Homo sapiens: one gene and its partners. The protein of the gene in region 1 interacts with the protein of each later gene in a pairwise test. Each region holds a gene or a part of one and is shown in the gene's direction. Other genes may lie near its edges.

Region 1 (3,500 bases):
CTCAGCCAAATAGTAATAAAATAGAATATAAACTTTTGTTCTGTTACTGGGACCTCTTTCAGCCTAATAACAAAAGTAATAATAATAGAATAAAAACCTTTGCTCCAGGTTCTAGAACCTCTTTCAGCCTAATAATAATAATAATGATAGAATGAAAATTTTTGTTCCAGGTGTCGAGACCTCTTCCAGCCTAATAATAATAATAATGTAATAATATAAGCCTTTGCTACAGGTACCAGGACCTGTTTCAGCCAAATAATAATAACAGCAATGATAATAGAATATAAACCTTGGCCCCAGGCACTGGGACTTCTTTCAGTCAAACAATCACAATAATAATAATAATAATAGAATATGGATGTTTGCTCCAGCTTTCAGGACCTCTTTCAGACAGATAATAATAACCGAGTACAAACTTTTCTTCCAGGTATCGGGACCTCTTCCAGCCTAAAAACAATAGTAATAATAGCATATATATCTTTTTTTTTGTTTTCTTCTTTCTTTGAGACGGAGTTTTGCGCTTGTTGCCCAGGCTACAGTGCAATGGCGCCATCTCGGCTCACTGCAACCTCTGCTTCCCGGGTTCAAACGATTCTCGTGCCTCAGCCTCCCGAGTAGCTGGGACTACAGGCATGTGCCACTACCACGCCCGGCTAATTTTGTATTTTTAGTAGAGGAGGGGTTTCACCATGTTGTCCAGGGTGGTCTCAAACTCCTGACCTCAGATGATCCACCCACCTTGGCCTCCCAAAGTGCTGAGAGTACAGGCGTGAGCCGCTGTGCCTGGTGCCAGCATAAAAATCTTTGCTACAGGTACTGAGACCTTTTTCAGCCTAATAATAATAACAACCGTAACAATAATAATTAGAATATAAACCTTTGTTACTGGTACTGGGACCTCTTCCAGCCTAATCTTCATAATAATAAAAATAATAATAATAATGGAATTGAAACCTTTCCTTCAGGTTCCAGAACCGCTTTCAGCCACATAATAATAATAATAATGATAATAATAATAATAAATAGAATTTAAACTTTTGTTTGAGGACTGGGACCTCTTTCAGCCCAATAGCACAAATAATAATAATGGAATGTAAACCTTTTCCTCCCAATTACCAAAACCTGTTTCAGCCAAATAATAATATGATGATGATGATGATGGAGGATCTGATACAGCTGTGTCCTGTCACTCAGGTCGGACTTAGGAGGCCTCTTGAGATTCTTTTCCCCCTCCGTTGACTGTGTAATCCAGGGGCCCCACCCTAACTCGGCTGCAGAAGATGCAGTTTGGGGGTTCCTCGTTTTGTGGAAGTCCCGGTCATGTTATTCATTCTCTCAGCACCTTAGAACAAACCAGGGTGCTGGCATTGGCCACAGGACCCCCCTCCTTGCACCCCAGTCTTGGGAAGTGGCACTGCTGGGCTCTGGCAATGCCCAGCTCACCTGGCACGTGGCGGCGTCTCCCTAAAAAGCACTGGGCGGGCACCGTTGACGGAAAGCCAGCAACGCAGGCCGCGACTGCCCGTGAAGACGGGGGGCCTTTCTAAGACCTCCACTCATTATTTCGGGCAAAATTAACCTTCAGAATACCTTGCTTTAATAAAGTACCAGAAACCGGAGGGCTTAAAACCATAGCTTATTCTCTCCCAGTTCTGGAGGCCAGAAGTCTGTAATCAAAGTGTCTCAGGGCTGCGCTCCCTCCGGAGGCTTACGCGGAGGGTGCTTCCTGCCTCTCCCAGCTCCTGGGGGCTCCTGGCGTCCCTGGGCTTCAGGCCAGCCACATCATCACTCTAGTCTCTGCCTCTGTCTCCATGTGGCCTTCTCTGTGTCTGTGTCTCCTCTTCTGTCTTTTATAAGGACATCTGTCACTGCATTTAGGGCTCACTCAAATCCCGGATGATCTCATCTCCAGATCCTTAACTCATGAGATCTACAAAATTTCTAATAACCAAGTAAGATCTCATTCCACATCCTGGGCTTTAGGCTGTGGACAGATCTTTCTGCGGGCCACTGTTCAATCCACCATGATTTTATCCAGTTCATTGTGGAGGCTCTAGAGGAGGATCCTTCCTGCCTCTCCCAGCTCCTGGGGGCTCCAGGCGTTCTGGGTTTGTGGCCGCATCACTCCAGTCTCGGCCTCTGTCTCCATGTGGTCTTCTCCTGTGTGTCCGTGTCTCCTCATCTGTCTTCTATTAAGGACACTGGTCACTGCATTTAGGACCACCTCAATTGAGAATAATCTCATCTAAAGATCCTTACCTTCATTATTAATACATCTGCAAAGACCCTTTTTCCAAACAAGGTCCCATACACAAGTACCAGGTGGATACAGATTTTCTTTGGTAGGGGAGGACGCTTTTCAACCCACTATAGTCATCATTGAAATATGCCTCCTTGCACTGACTGTATCCCAACACTCTGAACGTGCCTGGGTGGTGCATTTTGATATTTACCCTCCTGAGCACTGTACTGGACACTTGGAGACACAATTACACCTTTTAACAAAGCCCAGCTGTCATTTTGGGCAACCCAGTCACAGAGGTGGCCTCCTGAGTGGCAGCTGGAAGGGCCTGTATGTGTGAGCATTCAACCTCAACAGGAACCCTGGGGACTGGCTTCTGGGTCATCTAAGCCTCCACACCGACTGCCTGATGTTTGCACAGGTGTGTGATATTTGCCCAGTTGGGCCTTTCTGCCCACAGGTGTGACTGGACACAATGGGCATTTTGAGAAGTTCCAGGGATTGAGAAATCCATGCTTCTTCAGACGTGCTTACAGATCACGGATGCACCTGTGACGTTCCACATGGCTTCATTTTAAACCATAAAGTTTGAGAAGAGTGTGCAGTGCCTCTTAGCCATAGGAAAGCTGGCTTTAGTCAGATGGAGGTCCTGTTTGGCTTCTTTAATGCAGTGAATGAAGCTCAGGTGGCATTCAGAGAGTCCTGCTGTGATGGTTGGCAGTGGGGGGTCTGCCTGGCCACTTGTGGATTCTTCTATGTAGGCTTCATCCCCAGAAAAGATCTACGCAGCTTTCCCACGTGGCAGGTGCTTGGGAAACTCTTAGGACAGGAACAACAAGCCCCTGCGATGACAGAGGCATTGTCAGGCTGGGCGCGGTGACTCACGCCTGTCATCCCAGCACTTTGGGAGGCCAAGGCGGGTGGATCACCTGAAGTCAGGAGTTCGAGACCAGCCTGACCAACATGGTGAAACCCTGTCTCTACTAAAAATACAAAAATTAGCCAGGCGTGATGGCAGGTGCCTGTGATCCCAGCTACTGAGGAAGCTGAGGCAGGAAGATCGCTTGAACCCGGGAGGCGGAGGTTGCAGTGAGCTGAGATCACGCCATTGCACTGCAGCCTGGGTGACAGAGCGAAACTCTGTCTCAAAAAAAAAAAAAAAAAAAAACTAAAGGCACTTGTCAGGTACAGCCCTGCAAAAATGCCGTGCTCACTCGCAAACCTGTATGTTGACACGTGCGGCATCGCTGCAGTCGGA
Region 2 (3,500 bases), on another chromosome or scaffold:
GGGTACAGATGGTATTTGGTTGCATGAGTAAATTCTTTAGTGGTGATTTGTGAGATTTTGGTGCACCCATCACCTGAGCAGTATACATTGCATCATATTTGTAGTCTTTTATCCCTCACCCCTCTCCCACTCTTCCCCCTCAAGTCCCCATAGTCCACTGTATCATTCTTATGCCTTTGCGTCCTCATAGCTTAGCTCCCACATATCAGTGATTAGAACATACTGTGTTGGTTTTCCATTCCTGAGTTACTTCACTTAGAATAATAGTCTCCACTCTTATCCAAGTCACTGCAAATGCTGTTAATTCATTCCTTTTTATGGCTGTGTAGTATTCCATTTTGTGTGTGTGTGTGTGTGTGTGTGTGTATATATATGTATACACCACAGTTTCTTTATCCATACATTGAGTGATGGGCATTTGGATTGGTTCCACGATTTTGCAATTGTGAATTGTGCTGCTATAAACATGCATGTGCAAGTATCTTTTTCGAATAATGACTTCTTTTCAGAAGAGATTGCTGGATCAAATGGTAGTTCTACTTTTAGTTCTTTAAGGAATATCTACACTGTTTTCCATAGCAGCTGTGCTAGTTTACATTCCCACCAGCAGTGTAGAAGTGTTCCCTGTTCACCCTTTTCAACAAATTGTGCTGGGATAATTGGCCAGCCACATGTAGGAGAATGAAACTGGATTCTCATCTCTCAACCTTATATAAAAATCAACTCAAGATGGATTAAGGACTTAAACCTAAGACCTGAAACTATAAAAATTCTAGAAGATAACATTGGAAAAACCCTTCTAGACATTGGCTTAGGCAAGGATTTAATGACTAAGAACCCAAAAGCAAATGCAATAAAAACAAAGATAAATAGATGGGACCTAATTAAATTGAAGAGCTTTTGCACAGGAAAAGGAACAGCAGAGTAAACAGACAACCCACACAGTGGGAGAAAATCTTCCTAATCAATACATCTGAAAAAGTACTAATATCCAGAATCCACAATGAACTCAAACAAATAAGTAAGAAAAAACAAATAGTCCCATCAAAAAGTGGGCTAAGGATATGAATAGACAGTTCTCAAAAGAAGATATACAAATGGCCAGCAAACATGAAAAAATGCTCAGCATCCCTAATGATCAGGGAAATGCAAATCAGAACCACAATGTGATACCACCTCACTCCTGCAAGAATGGCCATCATCAAAAAATCAAAAAGCAGTAGATAGATTTTAGTGTGCATGTGGTGAACAGGGAACACTTTTTTTTTTTTTTGGAGACAGTTTTGCTCTTGTCACCCAGGCTGGAGTGCATTGGCGCAATCTCAGCTCATTGCAACCTCTGCCTCCCAGGTTCAAGTGATTCTTCTGCCTCAACTTCCCTAGTAGCTGGGATTACAGACGTGTGCCACCACGTCCTGCTAATTTTTGTATTTTTAGTAGAGATGGGGTTTCATCATGTTGGCCAGGCTGGTCTTGAACTCCTGACCTCAGGTGATCCCACCCGCCTCGGCCTCCCAAAGTGCTGGGATTACAGGCCTGAACCACCGTGCTGGGCTGGGAGACATCTTCTAAGTACTTGGATAGTGTGGGGGGACAGGGTAGACACCTACACATAAATGGATGTTGTTAGGAGAGAGAAAGGGGGACATGGATACTCAGTGAACACACAGAAATGGCCACTATTGTGGTGATGTTGGTAATTAAACACCAACAGCCTTAATTATGCAAGAATTCTTGCAAATAATAGGGTTAACCATATGTTTAGACAATTTGGAGTAAAGAAAGCTTTAAAAATTACTTATACATATTGGTAAATTTAACATGAAGAGGGATCTAATAAAATATATGATATTGATATGCAGAAAAAGTCTAAGTATGATATTCCATGCTTATAGGAAATTTAATTTTGCGGGGAGAGTAGGCTGGAAGTTCGGAGTGATTGTTTCCTGTTACAGGCCAAAAAATTTGTTTGGTTACTTAGTGGTAGCATTTTGAGAGGAAAGTTTACAGAAAACTAGGGTTATTTTGTGATTATGCTTGAATTGTCTTTATTGTTTCCAAGGCATCTTTTTTTTTTCCTTCTAGTTATCAAGATGTTAGGTTCTGTGCCCTTGTGGGCCTTCCCTCTGCCCAAAAAAAGCATGGATGAGCAGAGTAATATCATTAAAATGGCAGTCTTTGTTAGTTTTTCTAGAGAAGATGGTCTCTTTGGTAGGCTGGGTGTATCTTCGGCAAATGAGTTATTTATACATATAAACTATTAAGTTGGCAAGTATTTCTTTTTTTTCTTTTTCTTTTTTTTTTTTTGAGATGGAGTTCCACTCTTGTCGCCCAGGCTGGAGTGCAATGGTGCGATCTCAGCTCACTGCAACTTCCACCTCCCGGGTTCAAGCGATTCTCCAGCCTCAGCCTCCCAAGTGGCTGGGATTATAGGCGCCCACCACTACGCCCAGCTATTTTTTTTTTGTATTTTTAGTAGAGATGGGGTTTCACCACGTCGGCCAGGTTAGTCTCGAACTCCTGACCTCAGGTGATCCACCCACCTCAGCCTCCCACAGTGCTGGGATTACAGGCATGAGCCACCATGCTTGGCCTAAGTTCGTAAGTATTTCTGTGTAAAACTGCAATTTCAGCTACATAGGTACTTTGTGAATGAATCATAGTAGAAGTTATTTAAAAATTCCTTTAAGTAAAAATTATAAACATGAACTAGAGCTATATATATCAGTGTGAATGAATCTTAAAAATATAAGGTTAGACCTCGAAAGCAAGTTGTATAAGAATATGTATAGTTTGCTGTTATTTATATAAATTTTAGAAACCTACAGAACCACTCATACAATGCTGGTAGAGTATAAATTGGTATCCTACCTCTACATGAGAGAGTGACAGCATTTATTAAAATTAACCTAACAATTCAACTTCTAGGAATTATTTTATAGATGTACTCGTGTATGAAATAATGGGTTATTCGCTGCCATATTGTTGTAAATATTAATACAAAACTTTCGAAGTAACCTTTCTAATAGTAATAGTTATGGTTTATCCATATAGTGAAATACCTTGCAAACATTAAGGAAGAAAAAGGGAGGAACTTTGTATATTTTAGAGAACAATTTCCAAGGTGTATTTTTAAGAGGAAAAAGTAGAACAGTGTGTTCAATATGCCTACCACTTATGTATAAAAGGCAGGGGCAAATCTGTATCTTAAATGTGACTGCTTTTATATATAGAGTATGTCTCTTTAAAGATACACACAAGACTGGTTACGTTAGTTGCTCAGTATAGGGGACTAGGTAAAGGAGGACATTGTGTTGCACCATAGATGCTTTTGTACTTTTGAACTGTGTGTATAGTGCAGGTATTGTGTTATCAAAATATATGCAATGACATTTGTAAAAATAAATATGAAAAATAATGTTACTATATTTTTTATGGATTCCTACCCATGTAAAAATATTTAAACGTGGGAAACACAAACACCAAATTCAGGATAGTGG
Region 3 (3,240 bases), on another chromosome or scaffold:
CGACCTGCTGGCCGTGTTGCGGGGCCTCAGTGAGGATTTCCAGAAAGCTGAGGATGCCAGCAAGTTTGAGCTCTGCCAGCTGCTGCCCCTCTTTTTGCCCCCGACAACCGTGCCCCCTGAATGCTACCGGGATCTGCAGGCCGGGCTGGCACGCATCCTGGGAAGCAAGCTGAGCTCCTGGCAGCGCAACCCTGCACTGAAGCTGGCAGCCCGCCTGGCACACGCCTGCGGCTCCGACTGGATCCCGGCGGGCAGCTCCGGGAGCAAGTTCCTGGCCCTGCTGGTGAATCTGGCGTGCGTGGAAGTGCGGCTGGCACTGGAGGAGACGGGCACGGAGGTGAAAGAGGATGTGGTGACCGCCTGCTATGCCCTCATGGAGTTGGGGATCCAGGAATGCACTCGCTGTGAGCAGTCACTGCTTAAGGAGCCACAGAAGGTGCAGCTCGTGAGCGTCATGAAGGAGGCCATAGGGGCTGTTATCCACTACCTGCTGCAGGTGAGGGTGCAGTGACCCACAGAGGGGGCCCAGTATGGGGGGAGCCAGTGCTGGAGCTGGGAGGCAAGGGGGAGGAGAATAATGGGGAGACAGCGAAGCTGCATGTCCACACAAGCTGATACTGTAGCCAGCACTCCAGGGAGTAGTGTGCGGCCCAACCTCCCTCTCTCTCCCTCCCTCCACACAAGCACCATACCACACACCATATGTGCACTCACATCACAGTACACACACACGCACACACACACAACACAGTAACCTCCCACTCAAACGCTCCCCCCAATACACACACACTACACGCCACACACCTCTCCCCAACACATGCACACAAGATTGAAGCAGTCTGTTCTGCTCACTCCATAGCATTGTTTTATACACGCACACACCCGAACTTCTAATGGTGCAGGGAAGAGAAGCAGGGCTGCCTGGTTCCTGGCCTCTATAGAGGTCTGGCTAGATCAATTCGCCTGCCTCCCCTACATCCCCTCCTGCCTCCCCGCCTGAGAGGCCAGCTGTCCTGTCCCACAGGGATTCAGTCATGACTCTGGTCTCTTTAATGGCCTGCTCCAGCCACCGAGCTCACCAGCCATATATTCCATGCACCACGCTAAGCTCATGTCTTTTTTCTGACTTAGCACAAAAGAGAGCATCCCCTCACTCCCACCATTGGGAGCAGTTACACAGTAGCCAGGAACCTGCCCTCCCACCCCAGGTCAGAGCTGCTGTAAAGGGTGTTTAACTTAGCTTTTGACCTATGAATTTCCTTCTAGCCTTGAGACACTCCAGAGGTAGGGAGTTAGGGAGATGTGACTGGAGCCTCAGCGAGTACGGGGGCATGTCACTCAATTCACTCAGGCCCAGTTCACTCAGCAGACGTGTGTGGAGGGCCTGGCTCACTCTGTGCCAGTCCCTTGTGTGCGTCCCTACCACATGCTAGGTGCTGGGTTCATGGGACAGAATAAAGGTTGGGGCCTGCCTTTGAAAGGCTCACAGGCCAGAATTTCCTTCTAGTTGTATTATTTCTAGCTGGCTGGCCTCTGGCAAGGCAGGGAGGGTCCCTGGTCCTGCTCCATCTCAAGGGGGTCCTGTGGCAACAGGTGGGGTCAGAGAAGCAGAAGGAGCCCTTTGTGTTTGCCTCGGTGCGGATCCTGGGTGCCTGGCTGGCCGAGGAGACCTCATCCTTGCGTAAGGAGGTGTGCCAGCTGCTGCCCTTCCTCGTCCGCTATGCCAAGACCCTCTACGAGGAGGCCGAGGAGGCCAATGACCTTTCCCAGCAGGTGGCCAACCTGGCCATCTCCCCCACCACCCCAGGGCCCACCTGGCCAGGAGACGCTCTCCGGTGAGTCTGTAGTTACAGTCTGTCCAGCTAGATCATTCTACCGAAAAGCGTTAACACAAGGACACCCCTCCCCACAAACTGAGCTGTGCCAGGCTTCCTGATTGGGCCATGAGATATCCCTTAGGGTTATTTCTGTTTTGGGGGGCTTGTTCCCACAGGACTCCTCGGCTGCCAGGTGTCACTTGCCAACCCCAGATTTCTCAGTTAAAAGAGAACTTATACTTATTGAGCACCTACTACGAGCCAGGTATTTTGCTATACCCTTTACCAAAATGATCTCATTTGGTCCACGTGGTAAATATAACAGAAGTCTCATTCACATATGAAAGATTAGGAAACTGAGGCTCATAGAGATTAAAGTCACTTGCCCACAGTCACACTTTGTGGCAGAGCCCAAGTTTGGTCCTGGGTTGTGCGACTCTGAAGCTTGTACTTTTTCTGTGGTACCTGCGAGGATGTGTCCTTCTCCCCTACTTCCATTTCTCTTAGGCAAGGTGCCCTAAAAAGGGAATCTATGTGCCTTCATCTCTCCCAATCCCACACACGTCTGTCCCTTCCACATCCCCAGGCTCCTCCTGCCTGGCTGGTGCCACCTGACCGTTGAAGATGGGCCCCGGGAGATCCTGATCAAGGAAGGGGCCCCCTCGCTTCTGTGCAAGTATTTCCTGCAGCAGTGGGAACTCACATCCCCTGGCCACGACACCTCGGTGCTGCCTGACAGCGTGGAGATTGGCCTGCAGACCTGCTGCCACATCTTCCTCAACCTCGTGGTCACCGCACCGGGGCTGATCAAGTGAGGGGCTCGGGAGAGGTGGGGGAGGAGGCCGGAGGAGGCAAAGGAGGCTGCCCAGTTGCCTCAATTCTCAGTCTCCTACTTTGCCCCCCATGCCCATGGATTTGTTAGTGGTAGCATGGGGGTCTCAGAGTAGACATAGCCAGCCCCGCACAAGGATTCGGCATGCTGGAACCCCCAGGTACTGTCTCAGCATGTCTGCTTGTTCCAATCTCTGCCCCCCAGATGCTATGTTTGGGGCCCAAAGTTAATCACCCTACTGCCTAATTTCTTGCCAAGGGCTTGATTTGGCTGTACTAGACCCCCACCTACCTCCATCCTTCCCCCCTTTCTTTTCCAGGCGTGACGCCTGCTTCACATCTCTAATGAACACCCTCATGACGTCGCTACCAGCACTAGTGCAGCAACAGGGAAGGCTGCTTCTGGCTGCTAATGTGGCCACCCTGGGGCTCCTCATGGCCCGGCTCCTTAGCACCTCTCCAGGTAAGAACTGGGGATCCAGTCCTGATGGGTGAGGACAGAAGACCTGGGTGGACCTCCTGTGTTTGGGGCAAAAGTCACCATTTTTAGAAGATGGTTTTGCAGCATTTTCTAAGCAAGAGGAAATCTTTG
Region 4 (3,500 bases), on another chromosome or scaffold:
TTTCTCCCATTCTGTGGGTTGTCTCTTCACTTTGTTGATTGTTTCCTTTGCTATACAGCAGCTTTTTTACTTGATGTGATCCCATTTGTCCATTTTTGTTTTGGTTGCCTGTACTTTTGAGATCTTTCTTAAGAATTCTTTCCCCAGACCACTGTCCCAGAGAGTTTCCCCAGTGTTTTCTCTTGGTAATTTTATAGTTTCAGGTCTTATATTTAAGTCTTTAATCCACTTTGATTTGTAAAATCAGGCTTTTATCAGCCTTTTATCAGGTTGGGGAAGTTTTTTTAATCATGATTGGATAATGGATTTTGCCAAATGTGTTTTCTGCATCTATCAAGATGATCAGATGGTTTGTGACCACATTCTACTGTATAGTGTATTATATTAATGAGTTCAGATGTTAAACCAACCTTCCATTTCTAGGATAAACTCCCCTTGATCATAATGTATTATCCTTTGTATATGTTGCTAGATTTGGTTTGCCAATATTTTGTTGAGGATTTTTGTGTCCATATTCATGAAGGGTATTCATTTGTTATTTTCTTGTGATGTCTTTGTCTGGCTTTGGTATCAGGGTAATACTGACCTCATAGAACAAGTGAGAGTTTCCTTCTCTATCTTCTGTTAGAGTTTTCAAAATACTCATGTTGTTTCTTCTTTAATGGTTTGGTAGAATACATCACTGATGCCATCTGAGCCTGGGCTTAACCTTGTATAAATATTTTTAATTACTAATTTAATTTTTTTACTTGTTATAGATCTATTCAGATTTTCTATTTTTCTGTTATTTTTTTATCACTATTTTTTTGGTATTTTTTATCTTTTTAGAGTGTTTTTCCAGTGCGTTAGCTTACATATGGGTAAGTTTGCTTCTTAACTAGCGTACACTTTCACTAGTTAAGAAACTAGTCATAATGGCTTCTTTTTTTTAACTTTTTTTTTTTTTTTCTGAGACAGGATCTTGTTCTGTCACCCAGGCTGGAGTGCAGTGGTGTGATCTCAGCTCACTGTAGCCTCCGCCTCCTGGGCTCAAGCAGTCCTCTCCCGTCAGCCTCCCAAGTAGCTGGAGAAGCCGAGCGCCACCACACTCGGCTAATTTTTGCAATTTTAGTGGAGACGGGGTTTTGACATGTTGCCCAGCCTGACCTTGAACTCCTCGGCTCAAGCCATCAACCCATCTCAGCCTCCCACAGTGCTGATATTACAGGCATGAGCCACCGTCCCTGATTGATGAGGTTTTTTATTTCCTAAAAGCCACTGCCCTGAGGGCCCCTGCCCCTTCCTCAGGCTCCCCTACATCTCTCCACAAGTCAGCCTCCAACGGTTCACACCTGGAAAAGCAGGGGACCTTCAGAACTGAGCTCCAGCCTAGTTGGCACCTATATAGATTGGTTGGCCCTCCTGCTATTTCAGTTATTATTTTGAACATCACCACTTGGAAGACTGAGACTCCACTTCAGACCTCTTCTTCCTAACACCCTGATCTGGGGCTGATTATGTGCTTTAACATTCTACTGGGCAGGTCTGGCAGAAGGAACAGTATCAACTGACTGAGTAGGTCTCATTGGCAGTTGTGATTCAGAGACCTAGAAAGCTGAACCCACGGCTGGCAAGAAGAGGATGGTTTGTGGGACCTGGGCTGATGTCTGATGAAATTTTAAGCCCCAGCTATAGCTACTACAAAGAAAAGTGGCTGATGATAAGCATGTAACTCAAAGTAAGTGAACTGAGAAGCATGTTTTTTGTTTGTTTGTTTGTTTGTTTGTTTGAGACAGTTTCGCTCTTGTTGCCCAGGGTGGAGTGCAGTGGCACAATCTCGGCTCACTGCAACCTCTGCCTCCCAGGTTCAAGCGATTCTTGTGCCTCAGCCTCCGAGTCGCTGGGATTACCAGGTGTGTGCCACCACACCTGGCTAATTTTTTGTATTAGTAGAGACAGGGTTTCTCCATGTTGGTCAGGCTGGCCTCGAACTCCCGACCTCAGGTGATCTGCCAGCCTTAGCCTCTCAAAGTGGTGGGATTACAGGCATGAGCCCCCGCGCCCTGCCTGAGAAGTATGTTTTTATGTTGAGGATGTTACTGTGTGATGCCACATACATTGAAACACATACATTTAAAGTAAGGCCACAGACTCAAATGCCTCTAGAAGCCAGACAGGTAGCATACCTCCTCCTTTCATTGATTCAGAGACGTACATTTTTTTTGGCATTTGAACATCTCTGAAATTAGAGTGAACGTTACAATTGCAAGTCAAATGGTGTATAAAAAAGCAGCATCTTTATAGTCAGTGGTGCTTTAGATTAGACGAAATAACAGAAAATGAGTGGTGTTGGCCAGGAAAATTATATCCTTCTCTGTTGGCCTTTCACTTTGAAAGAGAGAAATGGATACAGAGACCTACTTTCCTACAATAAGACACAAGAACAATGACAAATGGGAACGACTTTGCTGCCTTCATGTCCGGTAGCCAATAGGGATTGGTGGCAACAGGCAAACTGGAGAGTACCCTTGCCCCCAGGGCAGCTCCCCCTCTTCCCTAGCTGATTATTGCCTGTGGTGGCATAGATCTAGTGTTGACAAGTGTTCTGAGTTTTCAAAGGAAGTCAGAAACCCCAAAATCTACATCTTCATGTGAAACTCCTAATTTTAAAATGATGGCTCAATTTTTTTTAACTGGCGAAAAAAAATATATATATACAAGTTAGATGAGCCTATGAGTGCTCAGAATAAATATAACCTCTCTTTTAAGGATGCAATATTAAGAGGCAGCATGAGACAAACCAGTTTTTACAATTAAGCCAAAAAAGAAAAGTTAAATCCATTTCGAAGTTTAACACTAGGTTCAGAGGCCCAGAATAACAAATACTGCAGGGCCTCTTACTTATTTCATCTTTAAACTTTCTTTTCTGCCTCCCACTAAATGGAAGATAAGAAAATATAGTTAAATCTATTGAAGATGTTGCATTCCTGTTTATAAAAATGTATGATCACTTTTTAAAATGCAGGCTTAGGTTTCCAAAGCAACAGCATTTGCTTCCCACTGCTGTAGACTGTGGTCAGTGAAAGGCAGGATGATGTCATGGGAAACCCCCAAATTATGAGAAGACCAGGGTGCTAATTCTGGCTGTGTGATGTGCAACTGATTTAGGTTCATTTCATCGTCTTTATTTATAAAATGGGGATGATAATAGCTACCCTCTGTACCTTACATGGTTGTAAGGGCCACATGAGATAAAACATGTGAAAGTATAAAGTGTTATGTATATATTAGTTGGTATTGCCCAAATCACATGGGTAGTTGGGACAGCACAGGTTCTTGAATCTCAGATTCTCCATCTCTGGCTACTGCTCTTTCCCTAGACTGCAGCACCTGTTGAAATGGTCATCTTATCAGCCAGTGGGGTTGAACAGATGAGGAAGCATAAGGCAAGAAGTTATTAGAAAAAAGTTAGCCAACATCTTAGGATCTCAAATAGCACTGTGTCTCTGTACAACAGGGTG

Evidence for each region. The genes of interacting proteins can lie anywhere in the genome.
Region 2: the proteins of ZBED1 (region 1) and PRKAA1 interact in binary tests that used the Homo sapiens proteins (3 or more experiments, as listed by UniProt).
Region 3: the proteins of ZBED1 (region 1) and NCDN interact in binary tests that used the Homo sapiens proteins (3 or more experiments, as listed by UniProt).
Region 4: the proteins of ZBED1 (region 1) and TTC23 interact in binary tests that used the Homo sapiens proteins (3 or more experiments, as listed by UniProt).

Annotation. Positions count from the first base shown.
Region 1 is NC_000023.11:2,490,977-2,494,476, reverse strand, and holds part of ZBED1 (E3 SUMO-protein ligase ZBED1), read left to right. Parts: intron 1-3,500.
Region 2 is NC_000005.10:40,791,875-40,795,374, reverse strand, and holds part of PRKAA1 (5'-AMP-activated protein kinase catalytic subunit alpha-1), read left to right. Parts: intron 1-3,500. UniProt on the Homo sapiens protein: Catalytic subunit of AMP-activated protein kinase (AMPK), an energy sensor protein kinase that plays a key role in regulating cellular energy metabolism.
Region 3 is NC_000001.11:35,560,799-35,564,038, forward strand, and holds part of NCDN (neurochondrin), read left to right. Parts: coding exon 1-496; intron 497-1,593; coding exon 1,594-1,835; intron 1,836-2,403; coding exon 2,404-2,628; intron 2,629-2,968; coding exon 2,969-3,111; intron 3,112-3,240. UniProt on the Homo sapiens protein: Probably involved in signal transduction in the nervous system, via increasing cell surface localization of GRM5/mGluR5 and positively regulating its signaling. Required for the spatial learning process.
Region 4 is NC_000015.10:99,239,582-99,243,081, reverse strand, and holds part of TTC23 (tetratricopeptide repeat protein 23), read left to right. Parts: intron 1-1,522; 5' UTR 1,523-1,717; intron 1,718-3,500. UniProt on the Homo sapiens protein: Participates positively in the ciliary Hedgehog (Hh) signaling.